2 separate regions of the Homo sapiens genome follow, and region 1 is linked to region 2. Evidence: fine-mapped expression QTL. Tissue or cell type: nasal epithelium. Region 2 holds a variant in brackets; the other region holds the start of a gene. All regions are shown on one strand. Distances are between the middles of the regions.

Region 1 (9,245 bases), 41 kb after region 2:
TCACCAGAACTTGACTCCCCTGAAGATGAGACTATCTAGAATCTCAAATCTAGAAATGCTACCACCTGGCAATTCATTTAGAGTTTAAACTTTCATTGTTTAGCTTCCACTTGTAAGTGAGAACATGCGGTTTTTGACTTTCAGACATACAGAGTGGAATAACAGACATTGGAAACTCCAAATGAACAGGAATGAAAGGAAGTAAAGTAGACTTGGAAGAGGGCCAAGCGGGCAACTTGAGAGATCAAGTGCCTTCATTAATTTCATACTTCGCCAGTGACCACCCAGTGCCACTGATACAGGCTAGCTGGGTTAACCTGAAGGGAAGGGTGGGAGCGATGAAATATTATATTCAGGTGATGTTACATTAAAAGCCCAGACTTCACCACTGTGCAATATAACCATATAACATAACTGCATTTGTACCCCTAAATCCATCCAAAAATTTAAAAAATTTTTAAAGCTTAAAATTTCAGTAAGACACAACTTTTTCCAGCATAAGGAACGTCACGCTAGGTCTCCCTTAAAGCAAGAACTTCATTCTCTGGTGCTTGCGTATCTCCCCTCTCCTCCCTCATCCTCTATTTCTGTCATTTCATACTGGTCAATTCTGCTGCTTGCAACAGATGTAGGAAAGGATTTTATGGCGAGTAGATTTTAAAACTGCTGTATTCTCAACACCTACACAATGCCTGGTGCATTACAAGAGCTTCATCAAGGCCAAGCATGGTGGCTCACGCCTGTAATCCCAGCACTTTGGGAGGTCAAGGTGGGTGGATCACCTGAGTTTGGAAGTTCGAGACCAGCCTGACCAATATGGAGAAACCTGTCTCTACTAAAAACACAAAATTAGCCAGGCGTGGTGGTGCATGCCTATAACCCAACTACTCGGGAGGCTGAGGCAGGAGAATCGCTTGAACCCGGGAGGTGGAAGTTGCAGTGAGATTGCACCATTGCACTCCAGCCTGGGCAACAAAAGCAAAACTCCGTCTCAAAAAAAAAAAAAAAAGCACTTTGGGAGGCCGAGGCGGGAGGATCACAAGGTCAGGAGATCGAGACTGGTGACAGAGCAAGACTCCATCTCAAAAACAAAACAAAAACAAAAAAAGCTTCATCAGTATCTGTTGAACAAATCAAAGCAGACATTGAAACAAGACTCTATGTCTATCTTCTACCACCATGAGTAACACAGCTAGCCTGAATCAGTGGCACTGGGTGGTCACTGGGGAAGTATGAAATTAATGAAGGCCTCTGATCTCTCAAGTTGCCAGCTTGGCCCTCTTCAAAGTCTACTTTACTTCCTTTCATTCCTGTTCTAAAGCTTTTAAATAAACTTTTGACAGGGCATGGTGGCTCAGACCTGTAATCCCACCACTTTGGGAGGCCAAGGTGGGCAGATCATCTGAGGTCAGGAGTTCAATACCAGCCTGGCCAACATGGTGAAACCCCGTCTCTGCTAAAATACAAAAATTAGCTGGACATGGTAGCGTGTACCTGTAATCCCAGCTACTCAGGAGCCTAAGACAGGAGAATTGCTTGAGCCTAGGAGGCGGGGGCTGCAATGAGCCAAGATCGCGCCACTGCACTCCAGCCTGGGTGACAGAGCTAGACTCCATCTCCAAAAAAAAACTTTCATTCCTGCTCTAAACCTTGCCTAGGTCTCCTTCTGCTTTGTGCCCCTCAGCCAAATTCTTTCTTCTGAGGAAGCAAGAATTGAGGTTGTTGCAGTCCCACATGGATTCCCCACTGGTAACATACTTTGGTGCCACATGACTCGGAAATGTTCCCTAGTGTAAGACACCTCCATGCCTCCCTCGCCTTCTTCGGCGGGAGGTGCTCAACCCCCATACAAGTTTTCTTCTCCTTTTCTCTCCTACTTACTAACCAAATCCCAAAACAATTCCTCTCAGCCGTAAGTGACTCTGCCCCGCCGGCTGGTCTCTCAGCTCACCTTGATGGGTGGCTCACAGGGATGGAAAGGACCTTGGGTCCAGACCGGGAAGAACTGAGGTGCTAATGGCCTCCTGGACGGGAGGCTCTGAAGAGTCATAGAGCTAAAGCCTAACACCATGCAATGTCTGGGGCTTAAAATAAATAATGAAAATCACAAGTTCACTTTGATCAATTTAAAACCATAATATAGGCCGAGTGTTGGTGGCTCACGCCTGTAATCCCAGCATTTTGGGAGACTGAGGTGGGCAGATCACCTGAGGTCTGGAGTTCGGGACCATCCTGGCCAACATGATGAAACCCCATCTCCAGTAAAAGCACAAAATTAGCCAGATATGGTGGCACGCGCCTGTAATCCCAGCTCGGGAGGCTGTGGCAGGCGAATCGCTTGAACCCGGGAGGCAGAGGTTCAGTGAGCCAAGATCGCGCCATTGCACTCCAGCCTGGGCAACAAGAGCGAAACTCCGTCTCAAAAAAAAATCATAATAAAAAATAAATAAATGAATGAAAGCATAGTATATAGGTATAAGAAACAGCATTTATCTTTTTTTTTTTTTTTTTTAAGACAGAGCCTTGTTCTTCTCGCTCGGGCTGGAGTGCAATGGCACAATTTTGGCTCACTGCAACCTCCCCCTCCTGGGTTCAAGCAATTCTCCTGCCTCAGCCTCCCGAGTAGCTGGGATTACAGGTGTGAGCCACTGCACCCAGCTTATCATGTTTTTTTTAAAAGGCTACTCGCTTGTTTATTTTCCTATTCACCAATTCCTTTGAGCCACATGACCTGGGTTGAAATAACACAGTTTTCCTCAACTTTTTAGAAAACTAACTAAAGCTGGTATTCAGCTTTCCTTCGTTTTTCCCTAATGTCTTACATCTGGTGTTCACGTGTTCTTAGGCTCCTCCTGGTTGTGACGTGCTTTCAGATTCCATGACCTTCACAGAGGACTGGTCAGGTGTACTGCAAGATTTTTTTTTTTTTTTTTGAGATGGAGTCTTGCTCTGCCGCCCAGGCTGAGTGCAGTGGCGGATCCCGGCTCACTGCAACCTCTGTCTCCCGGGTTCAAGAGACTCTCCTGCCTCAGCCTCTCGAGTAGCTGGTACTACAGGTGCGTGCCACCACACCGGGATAATTTTTTGTATTTTTAGTAGAGATGGGGTTTCGTCGTGTTAGCCAGGATGGTCTAGATCTCCTGACCTTGTGACCCGCCCGCCTCGGCCTCCCAAAGTGCTGGGACTACAGGCACCAGCCACCGCGCCCGGCCGCAAGATGTTCTTCTACTCCGGTTTGTGTGGTGTTTTCCTCATGCTTACGCTAGGGCCGTGGATTGGGGAGGTGAGGTGCTTTCTCAGGCCATCCTATTTATAAGGTCACGCGCGTTGACCATCTCACCCAGTCCTGGGGCCTGTCACACGGACAGATGCTCCCTGAAGTGTGGCTGCGGTGTGTGTGTATCTGTGTGCCTTAGAGACAGACACATCTGCATCCTTGGAAAATCATACTTGGTTTTATTTAATTCTATTTAAATTGTATGGGAGACCACTATGCTTTCACTTTAAAGCTAAATTCCTTAAATTATCCATGATTTTATATTTTCATTCGAGACTGTCGGGCCCTTTATCTCTTCTCTGAAGCCAACGCCTGGCTCACTCAGAGAAAGTTTCACCTGCATTCCGCCATGTAAATTACGAGTTCACTTTCTCTCACAACCCAAGAGTCGGGGGCCACATCCTTCCCAGAGAGCTCTTAATATTCTTCTTCTAAGAGTATGGCCAAGAACCACAAGACTTTCTCAGTCCCTCTGGAAGCAATGGAAACGGACTGTTTCACAGCCTGCCATATCCTGCATTGGCAAACCGGTCCCGTCCGGGGCCTCCCAGCACAAACGACACTGACAGAGAGCTCTACCCCGCAGAGCACTACGGAGTGCGGTGCTGCGGCACATCCACCTGGGAAGTGGCCTTGGCCCGTCCAGGGCTTGGTTTTGGATCTGCCGCGCGTGTTCTCCAAACTGAAGATCACTTGTATTCATTTGGTGCAGGTCTAAGGCGCAGCGGGCTCCGTAAGAGCACCCCAGGAACGCACAGCCCTGAGAGCCCGCCCGGGTCTTCCTTTTGCACCAGCGAGGCCCCTGCGGGGGACTGGAAATCCCAGGTCTTGCTCTACCGAGCGTACCCTAGGAGCGGGCCGCGCATCGGCTGAAGCGGCGCTTCCAGGCGGGCGCTGGGCTCGAGCACCCCAGCACCGCGTCCGCAGGAGGCTCCCGGCCGCGGGTTGCGGGCCACGGCGAGGGCTGCCGGGCGGCGCGGGGCAGGTCTTGGACCGAGGGAAAAAGTCAGCCGGGGAAGCCCGCACACCAAAGCAAGCCGCTCCAGCCGCTGAGAACGGAGAAAAGCCGTGGCGTCGGCGAAGCGCCGGACGCTCAGGACGCACCTGTGATTCCTGGGCCGCTCCCGGGCCCGAGCGCCAGGACGCGGCGGCAGCCTGGGCACGCCGCGGGGAGCACCCGCCCGCGCAGCCTTCCCCCAACCTGGGCCCGGGCCCCGACCCCGTCCCCTGCCCCGACCCGGGCGCCCCCACCTGCGACCGCCTTCTCCGCCGCCCGCCTCCCCCACCCGCCCGCCGCCTGCCGCCTGCCGCCCGCCCTACCTCGCCGCTTGGCACGCACGATGCCCTTCTTCTGTAGCACGAACGTGGACCCGTTCACCAGGCTCGACACGACGGCCACGCCCAGGCCGAGCGACACGGCGGCGGGGCTCGGGCTACGCGCCCCCTCCCCGGCCGCCGCCGCCGCCGCCGCCGCCGCTGCCGCAGCTGCAGTCCCCATTCCGCCCGCGCCCGCCCTCCGAGCCTGCGCCTGCGCGCCGCGCCCCGCGGGGCGGGATGGGGGGTGACCGGGAGGCGCGGGCGGGGGAGGGGAGGGGGACGGGTGGGGGAGGAGCAGGAAGAGGGGCGGGGGCGGGACGGGGGTGCCAGGGACCGGCGCCTTAGGCTGCGGGGACAGCAGTGGCGCCGGACGCGGCGGCAGTGAGGGGCCGGTGAGGCGCTGGGTGGGGCGGGGGTTCCCGGATTTCGCAAATGGAAATGCAGGACTCCTGGTTAAGTTTCCAGCGCGGAGAAACACGCATACTTTCTGAGTGGTGTCCTCTGCAATATCCGGGCAGCGGAGCGCGGCAGGACGCACCGGCGGGCAGCGGTCCCCGAAGAGCCTCCAGCGGAGGCCGGCCCAACTCACCGGAGCGCGAAGCCCGGCGCGCCGCTGCAGAGATCGAAGGAGAGCCCTGGCGCTGGGCGTTTCTCTTCCGCCCTTGGCGCTAGAGTCAGCTACATGGGGCTCTGGGCTTGTGATCCCATAGTCTAGTTTCCTCGTTTTAATAAACTACAACAAGCCGGGCGCGGTGGCTCACGCCTGTAATCCCAGCACTTCGGGAGGCCGAGGCGGGTGGATCACAAGGTCAGGAGATCGAGACCATCCTGGCTAACACAGTGAAACCCCGTCTCTACTAAAAATACAAAAAATTAGCTGGGCGTCGTGGCGGAGGCCTGTAGTCCCAGCTACTCGGGAGGCTGAGCCAGGAGAAGGGTGTGAACCCGGGAGGCAGAGCTTGCAGTGAGCGGAGATCACACAACTGCACTCGAGCCTGGGCGACAGAGCGAGACTCCGTCTCAAAAAAAAAAAAAAAAAGAAACAACAACAAAATTACAAGCTTGAAAAATAGGAAAAAGTTATTTTATTTTTTTTGGAAAAAAATATTTTTTAAAGTGACTCAATTCCACAACCCTCACCTAATTATTAGTATTTTAGGTGTTTTCCCATAATGTATACATACTTTTACATGTTTCCAATTACAATATACGAAATTTCCTTTTTATTTAATATATATCAGTTTCTGTATCGGTACATAAATATGATTATTCTAATGACAGTATAATAATTTGTCTAACCATTCAGCCATTGTTGGGTGTTAGGTAGCTACCAGGTTGGTTTGTTTTTTTGAGACAGAGTCTCGCTCTGTCGCCCAGGCTGGAGTGCAATGGCGCGATCTCGGCTCACTGCAACCTTCCGCCTCCCGGATTCAAGCGATTCTCGGCCTCAGCCTCCGAGTATCTAGAATTACAGGCGTCCGCCACCACGCCCGGGTTAATTTTTGTATTTTGAGTAGAGACGCGGTTTCACCATCTTGGCAAGGCTGGTCTTGAACTCCTGACCTCAGGTGATCCGTCCGCTCTACCTCCCAAAGTGCTGGGATTACAGGCGTGAACCACCGCGCCTGGCCGGTTGCTGCCAGGTTTTGTTGTCTATAAACGATGCTACAAGCTGGGCACAGTGGCTCACACCTATAATCCCAGCACTTTGGGGACCGAGGTGGGAGGCTCGCTTGAGCTCAGACGTTCAAGACCAGCCTGGGCAACGTAGCGAGACCCGTCTCTACCAAAAAAAGAAAAAAATTAATTAGCGGGGCGTGGTGGCTTTTACCTCCAACCCCAGATACTCTGGAGGCAGAGGTGGGAGGATGGCTTGAGGTGGAGGTTGCAGTGAGCTGTTATTGCACCACTGCACTCCAGCCTGGGCAACAGAGCAAGATTGTCTCAAAAACAAACGAAAAGTATAAACCTTTTGGCAGCTTTGCATACAGCATTATTATTTTGTGAAGAAATATAAAATAGGGCCGGGGAGGTGGCTCATGACTGTAATCCCAGCACTTTGGGAGGCGGAGGCGGACGGATCCGGAGGTCAGGTGGATGGATCAGGAGGTCAAGAGATCGAGACCATCCTAGCTAACACGATGAAACCCGGTCTCTACTAAAAATACAAAAAATTAGCCGGGCATGGTGGAGGGCGCCTGTAGTCCCAGCTACTCAGGAGGCTGAGGCAGGAGAATGGCGTGAACCCGGGAGGCGGAGCTTGCAGTGAGCCGAGATGGCACCACTGCACTCCAGCCTGGGCGACGGAGTGAGACTCCGTCTCAAAAAAAAAAAGAAAAAAAAAAGAACTCCACCCCAGACATTTTTCCATGTGAGTACATAGGTTAAATGACAGGCATATTTTATCTGATGGGGAAACACATATGGGATTTTAATTAAAAACATAAAACTATATTTTGCTTGAATTTAACAAAAGAAAAACTGAAATGAAACTACAGTAACTACTGAATGACAAACATTATTTTGCCATGAGATATTACTTCCTAAAAGATACACCTAAAATTAAAGTTAGTAGGCCAGGTACAGTGGCTCATGCCTATAATCCCAGTACTTTGGGAGGCCAAGGCCAGCAGATCACTTGAGCCCAGGAGTTTGAGATCAGCCTGGGCAACATGATGAAACCCCATCTCTGCAAAAAAATACAAAAATTAGCCAGGCATGGTGACATGTGCTTGTAGTCCCAGCTACTCAGGAGGCTATGGGAGGATCACTTGACCCCAGAAGTTGAGGCTACAGTGAGCCATGATCACGCCACTGCACTCCAGCCTGGGCAACAGAAGTGAGACCCTGTCTCAAAAAAAAAAAAAAAAAAGTGAGAAACACTAAGAGGGTGGGAGTTACGTTTATTTTAACTCTGGGTTTCAATTTTGGGCTATCAATTGATTCCTTGCAAGGAGAAATGAGGAAATCAGTTCACTTTTCAGCTCCCTAAAAAATTTTTTTTTCGTCTTATGTTTTGAGATGGAGTCTTGCTCTGTCACCCAGGCTGGAGTGCAGTGGCGTGATCTTGGCTCACTGCAACCTACGCTTCATGGGTTCAACCAATTCTCTGCTTCAGCCTCCCAAGTAGCTGGGATTACAGACGCCTGCCACCACGCCTGGCGAATTTTTTTGTATTTTTAGTAGAGACAGGGTTTCACCATCTCGGCCAGGCTGGTCTTGAACTACTGACTTCGTGATCCACCAGCTTCGGCCTCCCAAAGTGCTGGGATTACAGGCGTGAGCCACTGTACCCGGCCAAGAATTGTTTCTTCTCCTTACCTAGGTAGAGACTTCTGTAGAAATGCCGGGAGATTTTTGGAGAGGGGAGATTTTTCTTTTTTTTCTTTTCTTTTCTTTTCTTTTTTTTTTTTTTTGAGATGGAGTCTCGCTCTGTTGCCCAGGCTGGAGTGCAGTGGCGCGATCTTGGCTCACTGCAAGCTCCACCTCCCGGATTCACGCCATTCTCCTGCCTCAGCCTCCCAAGTAGCTGGGACTACAAGCACCCGCCACCATGCCTGGCTAATTTTTTATGTTTTTAGTAGAGATGGGGTTTCACTGCGTTTGCCAGGATGGTCTCGATCTCCTGACCTCATGATGTGCCCGCCTTGGCCTCCCAAAGTGCTGGGATTACAGGCGTGAGCCACCGCGCCCGGTGGGAGATTTTTCAGATAAAAAATTCAGCAGTTTGGGAGGCCAAGGTGGGTGGATCATGAGGTCAGGAGTTGAAGACCAGCCTGGCCAAGATGGTGAAACCCCGTCTCTACTAAAAATACAAAAATTAGCCAGACACAATGGCAGGTGCCTGTAATCCCAGCTACTCGGGAGGCTGAGGTAGGAGAATCCCTTGAACCTGGGTGGCAGAGGTTGCAGTGAGCCGAGATAGCACCACTGCACTCCAGCCTGGGCAATAAGAGTCAGACTCCGTCTAAAAAAAAAAAAAAATTTAATGGATCTAGTTCTAAACCTCATTTTGAATCCACCCACGTTGCTCTGAAATACATTCATCTTTCCTGTGGCTAAAACCTTAAAGCCTAGCCAGTAACTCCCATTGCACTTGAGGAAATCCAGTCTCCTTGCTGTGGCCCCTAACAGGCTGCTGCTGGCCCACCACGGTGCCTCTAGTTTGTGTAAAATGCATATGTTAATTCATAATAAACCATACAAGGCTTTTTTTTTTTTAGCTCTAAAAGGCTATTATTTACTAGTTGCTGTGTGAATCAGTATTTCTGGGTGCAGTTAGAAATTATTAGAGTTAATGCCCAAGACTCATCTCAACCAACACGGGGGAGGGCATCTGCTCCTTTTATGGTCAGTGACTCTGGGCCTCCTTCTGCTGGGCTCAGTCCTGAGGTGGGTCTGACTCAGGTCAGAGCTGTGCACCCCGGCCCTCCTCCCCAACGTGCATGAGTGCTCTTTAGGATGGAGCTGAACACCGGCTTCTCAAAACCATGTGGCCCCATCACAGGCCCTGAGAACTGATTGGGTCACTCTGGTGGGCTCCCCAGCCCTAGACAAGAAGGGTTTCTCTAGGGAGCCTGGCCCCCACTCATGAGACCTGGAGCCTCAAAGATCTCTTCGGAGCCCCAAAGATCTCTTTGCAGTGTATCAG
Region 2 (10,531 bases):
CCCCAATAATTCCCTGCCATTTTAAAGCATTTCTATTATATGAATACTTTTCAATTAATATTATTTGGTTTATTCAAGGCCATCAATGACCTACAAATGTAGTAGGGCATTTTCCAAAACATTTGTTGGGGGTGAGCAGGGAGAAACTTTCTGAAAAATATAGGAATAACTCAAGGTGAATTGAGGTAGAACAGTGGGATAGTGATTAAAAGCCAGGAGTTGGCTTTTGTGAACTGCCTCACTTGGTAAAATGGTAAGTGGATGTGGTAAGCAGAAAGCCCAAAGATATCCACGTCCTCACCTTGTAACCTGTGACTGTGCCACCTTCCATGGCAAAAGGGGCTCTGCAGAGGCAACTAAGGATCTTGAGAGAGGGAGCTGACCCTGGATTGTCCATGTGGGCCCAAAGCAGTCATGAAGGTCCTTCCAAGAGGGTGACAGGAGTGTCAGAGTCAGAGAGTAAGCTATGATGATGGATGAGTGGCGAGAGAGATGACATTGCTGGCTTCAAAGATGGAGGAAGGAGCCACGAGGCAAGATACAAAGGCGGCCTCTAGAAACCAAAAGAGCAGGGATGAGACTCTTCCCAGGAGCCTCCAGAGGGAAGTAATCCTGTCTGCACCTTGATTTTAGCCCAGCAAAGCTTGTGTGGAACTTCTAACCTCCAGAATTGTAAGATGATACGCGTGTGTTGTTTTAAGCTACAAGGTATGTAACTTGTGAAGAGCCGTAATAAAAAACTAACACAATAAGTATGCCAAATTAAGGGAAGGAGAAGATGCTGGGATCCCCCCAATGTCTTTGTCAAAAATAAAACAGATTCAGTGTTATAGATGAGCAACCTGGTCTGACCTTCTCTCCACCCTCTGGTCCATCATCTCAGTGATTTTCACACTCATTATGTTTACTTGGTCACCACCACCGCTGTCCTGCTTGCCACCATCCAGTTCCACACCTCTTTCTCATGTGCTCGGCTGGAATGAATCCTGTCCTCTTTGGACTGGTAATAGAGAGGTACCTAGATCTTTTTTTTTTTAGACGGAGTTTCGCTCTTGCTGCCCAGGCTGGAGTGCAGTGGCGTGATCTCAGCTCACCGCAACCTCTGCCTCCCGGGTTCAAGCAATTCTCCTGCCTCAGCCTCCCGAATAGCTGGGATTACAGGCGTGCACCACCACGCTCAGCTAATTATGTATTTTTAGTAGAGACGGGGGTTTCTCCATGTTGGTCAGGCTGGTCTCAAACCCCTGACCTCAGGTAATCCACCGGCCTTGGCCTCCGAAAGTGCTGGGATTACAGGCGTGAGCCACTGTGCCTGGCTGCAGAGGTACCTAGATCTTTTATATCTGTTTCTTGTCTGTGTCTCACCTCTCCAACTAAAAACCTTTTTAAAACTATCATGTGAGATTCAAACTAATGGTGAACAAGTAAGTGTGACTAATACTACAACAAACATGCTGACAATGTCAAAACGAAGGGTCATCAGATGGATGGGATGGATGTAACTAAGCAACACAGAAATTCTAGAACAAGTCCCTTGCAGGGAAGGCTTGGCTAGCAGCCAGCACAAACTACTCTATAGTAGTAACCAACCAATGCAAGCTTTTGTTCAATGACAGCAGAATTTGGCATTAATACACTTCACAGCCCCAAAAACCTATCTGGAGTTATCCATAGATGCATTTGGTGATTTCATAAAATGTTTGTTCTTGTTTTCTGTATAAGTATACTTTGATCAAAATGTGAATAATTAAATCTTTTGGGATAGAGACTAAGAAAAAAATCTTACTCATTTTTTCTCATTTGATAAAATAACTTATAGGACACCAGTCTGAGCAACATAACTAGACCCTGTCTCTACAAAAAAATTAAAAAATTACCCAGGTGTGGAGGCACAGGCCTGTAGTCCTAGCTACCGGGGAGGCTGACGCAGGAGGGTCGCTTGAGCCCAGCAGTTTGAGGCTGCAGTGAGCTATGACTGTAAGAGAGTGAGACCCTGTCTCTCAAAAAAAAAAAAAAAAACCAAAACAAAGAAAATTATAGGACACTAAAGAAGATCAGCAACAAGATTTCTAATGATGCTTGAAGTATGAAAATGCGTTATAATTGTCTCATTTTCTATGGGCTAAAAATGTAAAATGATATGTTATACAACTCAAAAACATGTCAAAGGTACTAACATATTAAAATAGAGCTGGTTTTATTTAATACTATCACTTCATTGGATCAAGAGACAGTCGCAGGACAGGGAATTTCTGCATACATCATGGATTTGCTCCCTAAGGTAGATGCACAGGTAGACGGTTTCTTTTTCTTTTTCTTTTTTTTTCCAAGACGGAGTTTCGCTCTTGTCGTCCAGGCTAGAGTGCAGTGGCACGATCTCGGCTCCCTGCAACCTCCACCTCCCGGGTTTAAGTGATTCTCCTGCCTCAGCCTCTGGAGTAGCTGGGATTACAGGCACACACCACCACGCACAACTAATTTTTGTATTTTTAGTAGAGACGGGGTTTCACCATGTTGGCCAGGCTGGTCTCGAACTCCTGACCTCGTGATCTGCCTGCCTTGGCCTCCTGAAGTGCTGGGATTATAGGCGTGAGCCACCGCACCTGGCCTTTTTTGTTTTGTTTTGTTTTGTTTTTGAGACGGAGTTTTGCTCTTGTTGCCCAGGCTGGAGTGCAATGGTGTGATCTCGGCTCACTGCAACCTCTGCCTCTCAGGTTCAAGTGATTCTCCTGCCTCGGCCTCCTGAGTAGCTGGGATTACAGGCATGCACCACCACCTCTGGCTAATTTTGTATTTTTAGCAGAGACAGGGTTTCTCCATGTTGGTCAGGCTACTCTCAAACTCCCGACCTCAGGTGATCCGCCCGCCTCAGCCTCCCAAAGCACTGGGATTACAGGTGTGAGCCACCACACCTGGCCCACAGGTAGACATTTTCTACATTGTTATAGAGATCTAGAGGCTAGTCATTTCTGTCTTTTTTTTTTTTGAGATGGAGTCTCGCTCTGTTGTCCAGGCTGGAGTGCAGTGCTGTGATCTCGGTCACTGCAACCTCTGCCTCCCAAGTTCAAGTGATTCTCCTGCTTCAGCCTGCTGAGTACCTGGGACTACAGATGTGCACCACCATGCCTGTCTAATTTTTGTTATTTTTTAGTAGAGATGGGGTTTTACCATGTTGACCAGGCTGGTCTCAAACTCCTGGCCTCAAGTGTCCCACCCGCCTCAGCCCCCTAAAGTGCTGCGATTACAGGCATGAGCCACTGCACCCAGCCTAGGCTACTCATTTCTAAAAAGAGAATAGGAAAAATGGGAGGAACTGGGATGATCTGGAACCTGAGACTACATAAGCATTTCAAGTAAAGGGAAAAAAAAAAATCAACAAATGTTCAGCTAGAAATAAGTTATTTTATTTTAAAACACATACAGATTAATAAATATTACTGGAAAACTTAATAGCCTTTTTATTTACATGAGGCAATAACAACATGCTATGACTACATCTATAAAGCAAAATATAAGCAGGTCTTGGCCACTGACACATGTGTCTATGTATGCTAATTGGAAGCTCCCCAATACATGTCTATGACAAAACTTTTACACAACCAATCAACATTTGACATTTTTTACATCTTCTTCCTCTCATGATTATATTCCATTTTCAAGAAAATAATAGTTATCCTTTGAAAAGGCAAAACGCTCAAGCCACTGAAAAACAGTATCTAAATTTCTGTAAAGTGCAAAAATACTAAGGTGGGGGGCAATTATTATATTCTGACAAATAAATATTCTGAACTTTTCAACATGACCCTTTGGCACTAGTGGTTTGGGAGCCCTGACATTCGCCTGGTGTCAGTTCAGCATCAGGGTTGAGCTGCTTGGAAGCAGGAAGTTCAGCGTCATTTATTACAAATCCAGTGCAACAGAATCCACGTGTTTCACAGGCCATTAAATCTTTTTCAGAATACAGACCTCGGCCGAATGTCAGGAGCACATCACACCATCGGAAGGTGATCTTTCTGTGCGGCTTTCTGAAGTCCCTGTTTAATTTCCATATTTTACAATAGAACATATAAAACCCTTTCTTTTAAAACAAAAAAAGGAAAACTAAAGCTTCATGGAATCATGCAAACTTTACACCCAGCACTTCCTTTGCTTTCTCAGCGCATGAGGCTGTGTGTCCTACAGCATGGTCCTGAGCAGACTCCATGGTCCGTGCAAGCGGAGTTTCCACTGTGCCACTCCCAGGCACTTCTGAACACGGTGCTCTCATCTCAGGCCACCAGAACACTGCTGAAAGTGCCGGTGTTTTAGAAACAATTTGAAGAACCATCCCACCCCTTTAGAGGTAGAAAAACTGAGGCACAGAAAGGTTAAGAGACTCACCTATGTTTGCACAATTTAGGGAAAAATAGAGAAAAGAAGAAAAACATCCTCCTCCCTGGCTCATGCTCTGGGCCCTGGATTCTGCTTTTTAAATGCTTTTGGGTACATGTGAAATAGATGTTTATTTACATGATCCTTGTTCTACTGAATATCAACTTTTTACTAGACAACATATTTTGATGTAACAAAGTTACATTTTCTTAAAATATAATTATGTTGTTGCACGTGAGGAATGTGAATGAAACAAATGAGTCGTGGTAGTGGGCCAAATTCTCACTGCTGTTCCTGTAATTCTGAACCTTTTCAAGTATACAATGGAGGTATAAGAATCTGGCCAGATGTGAAACATCACCTATAAGCTAAAGGACAGACCCTTAAAATTCATCACCAGTACAATTGTGAGGTGGAAATGAGGAATACAAAAAATTGAGGTATTTTATATGATAAACTGTCTTGTGGTGTGACTGGTGTACAAATTGGTCTTTTCTTTCCAACTCACATTAACAGAATCTACCTATGAATATGAGTAAAACCTATGAAAAATGAACACGGATATGTCCTTGGGAGGAAGGTCACTGTTAAGGAGTCAATGATACATTTTTGGTCCCTGAGAAGGCAAAACACCAAGACTCCATCCAATCCCGCCTGATGGACGAACAACGCCCTCGGTGTCAGACACCATGAAAAGAACAACTTCAGAACACGGAAGCTAATCCATGCTGTCGGGAACAGACCTTACACTGAAATGTTCTCTTTCTAGTTTCCTGCTTGGTGGCAGGAAGCCTAAGTCAGCATCGAGCAGGTGTCAGGTCGAAGCGGCACAACGGGAGGGGCTCTGGGAACCACCGGAGTACTCTCTCCCCTCTTCTGGGTTAGCTGAGCAGCTTGAAGAAGAGGAATCCCCCGACCAGACAGAAGGGCAGCAGCCTGTGCCCATCACACCTGTTTCCACGGACCAGGTGTCCGTGCACACCTGGGAGACACTGCATCTCCAAAGTCTAGAACTGGCCCCTAGAAGTTGAGCACAACATTTACAAAGAGCTGAGTCATCTAGGAAGAAGGAAAATAAGACGACTGCACAAGTGAACAGTGCTCACTTCTACCAGAAAACAGATGTGAAATCCAAAGAAGAACAAACACCAACATATTACCGCTGGGATGAACTTCTGGAAAGACAACTGGGTGTAGTAAATTGGCTTGAAGAGCAGGAATTGAAAGAATATTCCTTATTGCTGAACAAAGAGCTGCGAAGTATATTCACTAACATTCTGATAGGAAAAGATCTCAATGAGAGCTGAGCAAGGCCACCAGAATACCAAATTCCTCCCCAAAGTCCCCAGCATGGGCAGGGCCTCACTCCATGTGGCACTGGAAGGACTTCCCTCCCCAGCACCTTCTCCACAGAGATGGCATGGTCCTGCCAGCCGGGAAGATGCTCCAGGGGGGCTTTGTGGTGCTGGGTTAGGGTTAGAATCCTTAATTGGCCCTACCTTTGATCAATGAGCAGAACAGGAAGCAATCCTTTCAAATGCAAATATTCAGAGGAGAAAACAAGGCATTGCCCAAGAAGAGGAGAGAAATAGCCTATTTAAGTATCTATCAAGAGAAATCTGCATATTGTGATCAAAACCTTTGATTTTAGAGGATGCTTGAAAACAAGTATACAGTAAGCATCTTTTTTTTCAAAGAATAGTATGATAATGAAAATATTTCAAGTACATGTACTTTTGGAAAGACCACTAAGAGATCTATCCATGTTCTAGGCCCTCCCCCAAAGTTCTCACTTTGGGGCTTTTTCATTTTCAAATGAATGATGAAAACATAATTTTTTAAAATAAATACTATCAAATCAGAAGTTATATGCTCTATATTAAATTTGAAAATTAGACTGTTCAACCACTGGTCATGTCATTTACTTTGAGGCTGGTGTCACGTGCTTGAAAAACAATGGATGATATGAACTTTGTTTCACTGGAAGAAAAGCTATGTATCCTACTGAAGTATCTGCTGAACAGAGGTAAACCTGAAAGATTCTAACTGTCCCAGGACCAGTCACCTTCAAGGGTAGAAGAGCTATTAATACTTTTGAGATTTTGTTTTACTCTAAGAATATTATAGAGAAGATCA[T/C]CGGGTATCACCTCTCAGTATCAATGGTATAATTGTGGATTAAAATATACTAAGGTACACCAAGAGCTGCCTTTAAACTAAATTTCCCACAAAAGCTGTAGCAACACAAACATGATCATTTTCATGTGACACATGAACTTTCTCATTACACTTGTTAGCCACATGTATTCTTTGAATATCTCACACCCCTTACCTAGGAAACTATTTTTATGCCCAAAAGTATATTGATACTGCTACATTACGTTTTCAGAAAGTTCAGTTCAGTAAGTTAAGGCCTGCATTTCTAAAAGCACTGATGATAAAACACAAAACCTGCAAGAGCCAATAAAAAGAGTAATGGACTTTGAGCATTTGTTAACCATCCATTGAGAGGATTTAAGATTTTTAAAAAATAATGTTGTTGCTGCTCTCAGTTCACAAATCACTGACAACCCATGATCATCATGTACACGTTTACTCCATAAAGGTATTTTTCTCTCTATATTAAACTAGTCTCATTTTATTTAGCCTCTTTACTCAACACTTTAGGAAGCTATTCCTTGAGACTTTAGAAATGTTCTTTTTGCCTACAAAAACACATTTTTTTTCTTACTGAGGAACTTTAATTGGGTACTATTCAATTTTATGTTCTACTTCACCTAATCTACTTTACCCAACCCCATCTTTCAACTTGGCGTAGTTCCCTGCTGAGATAAAACACTGGCCATGAAGTACATGATACCGTGGTGAAATATGTGCATCACTTCATGCTATGCTCCCATTTGGAACACATGGATGGGAACACTATAGACAGAGAATGACCTCTTTGATTCAAATACTGGCATAATTAATGGCTCTTTTGCATTTAAGACACATAATGAGAGGTTAGCTGAGGAACTCTAGGATGCTCTGCCATTGCAAACAACAAGGAGATGGCTACATTTATTGGCTTTTTGTTAGAAAATCTTTCAAAAACTGCATATTGCAATTTGTAGAAGCTAGCCTAACCTCAATTGTGTCCTTTAACTTGTTCCTGTATGACAGGGTACTCGATATATGAGCTATTGAACAGGTACTCTCCCACTTAGCCTTATTATCAAGTTACCTAATTTATTTCTTCTGAATGGCCATGAATGCTTGCTGATAAAGAATGTGGATATATTTGATACTGGATCCCAGGTAACACAGATCGAATACAAATAAAATAATACCTCATGCTACTTAAATCAACTGTCTTTAATTGGACAATAATCACATGTTAAAGGGGTCAATTTGCTCTAATGTGTCTTTAGTCTTGACTATCTTCCAGTGAATATACAGTCATGAACCACGTAACCATGTTTCTGTCAAAGACATACCACTTACATGACGGTGGTCCCATAACATTGTAATACCATAGTTTTACTGTACCTTTCCTATGTTTGTAAACACAAATACTCACCACTGTGTTACAATTGCCTGCGGTATTCAGTGCGGTCACATGCTGTACAGGTGTGTGGCCCAGGAGCAACAGGCTGTACCATCTGGCCTGGGTGGGTCATAGGTGTCCCATCTAGGTTTGTATAAGTGCACTCCATGATGTTCACACAATAAAGTCACCTTACAATGCATTTCTCAGAATGTTTCCCTATCATTAAGTGACATGTGACTGTATTATTTCTAACTGCCTTATACATTTGTAACTTGAATATTGAAATATTAAAGCATACTCGAAGTTGCATTATTCTAATCTAAGAACATATACACATTAAGAGTCAAATTAAGTTAATAATTCAAGTGATAAAGGCACTGAAATTGATTTGAGCTATTGAAAAGTCATCCTGCCAGTGGAACACTACCTCATGTTCATTAACTCTTCTCTCTCTCTCTATTTACTATTAAAATGTCTTGGGTGGGGGTGGGGGTCGAAGAGTCAACTTGTCAGAGGATTAAAAACAATTCAATGTATATGCCTCTTATTTGGATGACATACTTGAATGTTATACATGCTTAATGCAAACTAACACAACTACAGACACATTCACTGTACAGTGCCAGAGTTCAAGACAACAATCTCTCATTCCCAAAGTAATCTAAGTAAAAATATCTCTGCTATCATGTAACAACTAACCAGAAAGAGCCCATCTTTTTCTGTTTAAATAATGTTAAAATGTTTTAAAAGAAGAGAATATTCATGAAAGCTTCCAGGTTAATGGAAATGAAAATGAGATTCGTCTCATCAGAGAGAGATGGTGCCAGGCAACCGTTGGGGACGTTTGGGCTGCAGAGGGCTGGCTGGGCCTCTGCTCTGGTGCTGAGCCATGCTCCCCGCTATCCACCAGACCACCTGTTACTATCCAGTCAATTCTAACACCATGATCGAGGACCTCTTCTACTTCACATCCAATCACGGCCAGAAACCACCTCCAATGCCTATTCCTCGAACCATCCAAGCTCCTATTGCAATCTAGTCTGTTTTCATATTAGATTTGTTCATCTCCCCAAGGTTGAAATTGAACTCTTTGAACACCTGTATAAGGACAATCCCCACGGAGACGGTCGTGAATCCACAGGCCATCCCCAAGAAGTCCACCAGGCCCACGTTGCTCCACTCCCGGAAGAGGATGGCTGAGGCCAGCAGGACCAGCGTGGTAAACACGACGTAGTAGATGGCCCCGAACACCGAGGAGTCGAAGCACTCCAGCGCCTTGTTGATGTACCTGAACTGGACGATGATGCTGCAGCCGAGCACGGCCAGGAGTACCAGGCACAGGCAGAGGGCTCTCTGACTGGACGGGTTGTTATGCAAGATGTCTTGGGCCGCCAGCCCGATGCCCTTGGTGGAAGGCACGGTGAAACTGCCCAGCAAGGAGCAGATGCTGATGTAGACCATGATGTTGGTGGGCCCATGGGCCGGCGCGATCCAGAAGATGAGCAGCAGCAGCATGAGCAGCACGATGCACAGGTAGCCCACAAACACTGGAACACAGACAGCACACAGTCACCCGGAGCCACCGCCTAGCAGCCGCAACCCAGGAGGTGGACTGGGGCAGCACCCGGGCCCCCACCCGCCACCCGCCACCGGCCTCTACTGCGGCACAGCCCTGGGGAGCATGTGGGCTCTGGCTTGAATTTACCAGACCCACTGATTTCATTCCACAAAAGTATTCCCATCATTTTCACTGTTAAAACATTTACAGCCGGGTTAGCCAGACGCGGTGGCTCATGCCTGTAATCCCAGCACTTTGGGGGGCCAAGGCAGGTGGATCATGAGGTCAGGAGTTCAAGACCAGCCTGGCCAAGATGGTGAAACCCCGTCTCTACTAAAAGTACAAAAATTACAGCGCGCCTGTAATCCCAGCTACTTGGGAGGCTGAGGCAGGAGAATCACTTGAACCTAGGGGGTGGAGGTTGCAGTGAGCCGAGATCAAACCACTGTACTCCAGCCTGGGTGACAGAGCAAGACTCCATCTCAGAAAAAAAAAAAAAAATTTACAGAAGGGCACAATGGCTCACACCTGTAATCCCAGCACTTTGGGAGGCCGAGGTGGGCCGATCAGGAGATCAATACCATCCTGGCTAACTTGGTGAAACCCTGTTCTCCACTAAAAATACAAAAAATTAGCTAGGCGTGGTGGCATGCACCAGTAATCCCAGCTACTCAGGAGGCTGAGGCAGGAGAATCGCTTGAACCCGGGAGGCAGAGGTTGCAGTGAGCCGAGATCACACCACTGCACTCCAGCCTGGGCGACAGAGCAAGAGTCCGTCTCAAAAAAAAAAAAAAAAAAAAAAAAAAAACCATTTACAGCTCCTAAATGTTTACATGGTCCTCTATTGGAACCATTCTCTTTTTTTCTTGTTGTTTGTTTTGTTTTTTTGAGATGGAGTTTTGCTCTTTGTTGCCCAGGCTGGATTGCAATAGCACGATCTCTGCTCACTGCAACCTCCACCTCCCAGGTTCAAGCGATTCTCCTGCTTCAGCCTCCTGAGTAGCTGGGAATACATAAGCACCCGCCACCACGCCTGGCTATTATATTTTTAGCAGAGACGGGGTTTCGCCATGTTG

The links. PIP is the estimated chance that this variant, and not a neighbour inherited with it, causes the effect.
Region 1: NIPA1 starts here. The variant in region 2 is fine-mapped to the expression of NIPA1 in nasal epithelium (TOPMed, PIP above 0.99).

Annotation. Positions count from the first base shown.
Region 1 is chr15:22,782,187-22,791,431 of GRCh38, reverse strand. It overlaps NIPA1 (NIPA magnesium transporter 1), which reads right to left and starts at 4,788. Exons shown (of 5, transcript NM_144599.5): 1 at 4,598-4,788. The coding sequence starts at 4,775. RefSeq lists an enhancer at 3,741-3,850 and silencers at 4,201-4,330, 4,341-4,490, 4,561-4,920, 4,883-5,116.
Region 2 is chr15:22,822,641-22,833,171 of GRCh38, reverse strand. It overlaps NIPA1 (NIPA magnesium transporter 1), which reads right to left. Exons shown (of 5, transcript NM_144599.5): 5 at 3,383-9,444. The coding sequence ends at 8,933. Among named protein-coding and RNA genes, the nearest start is that of NIPA2, 11 kb to the left of the region's middle. RefSeq lists an enhancer at 5,531-6,283. The variant T/C (reference allele first, on the strand shown) is at 6,508.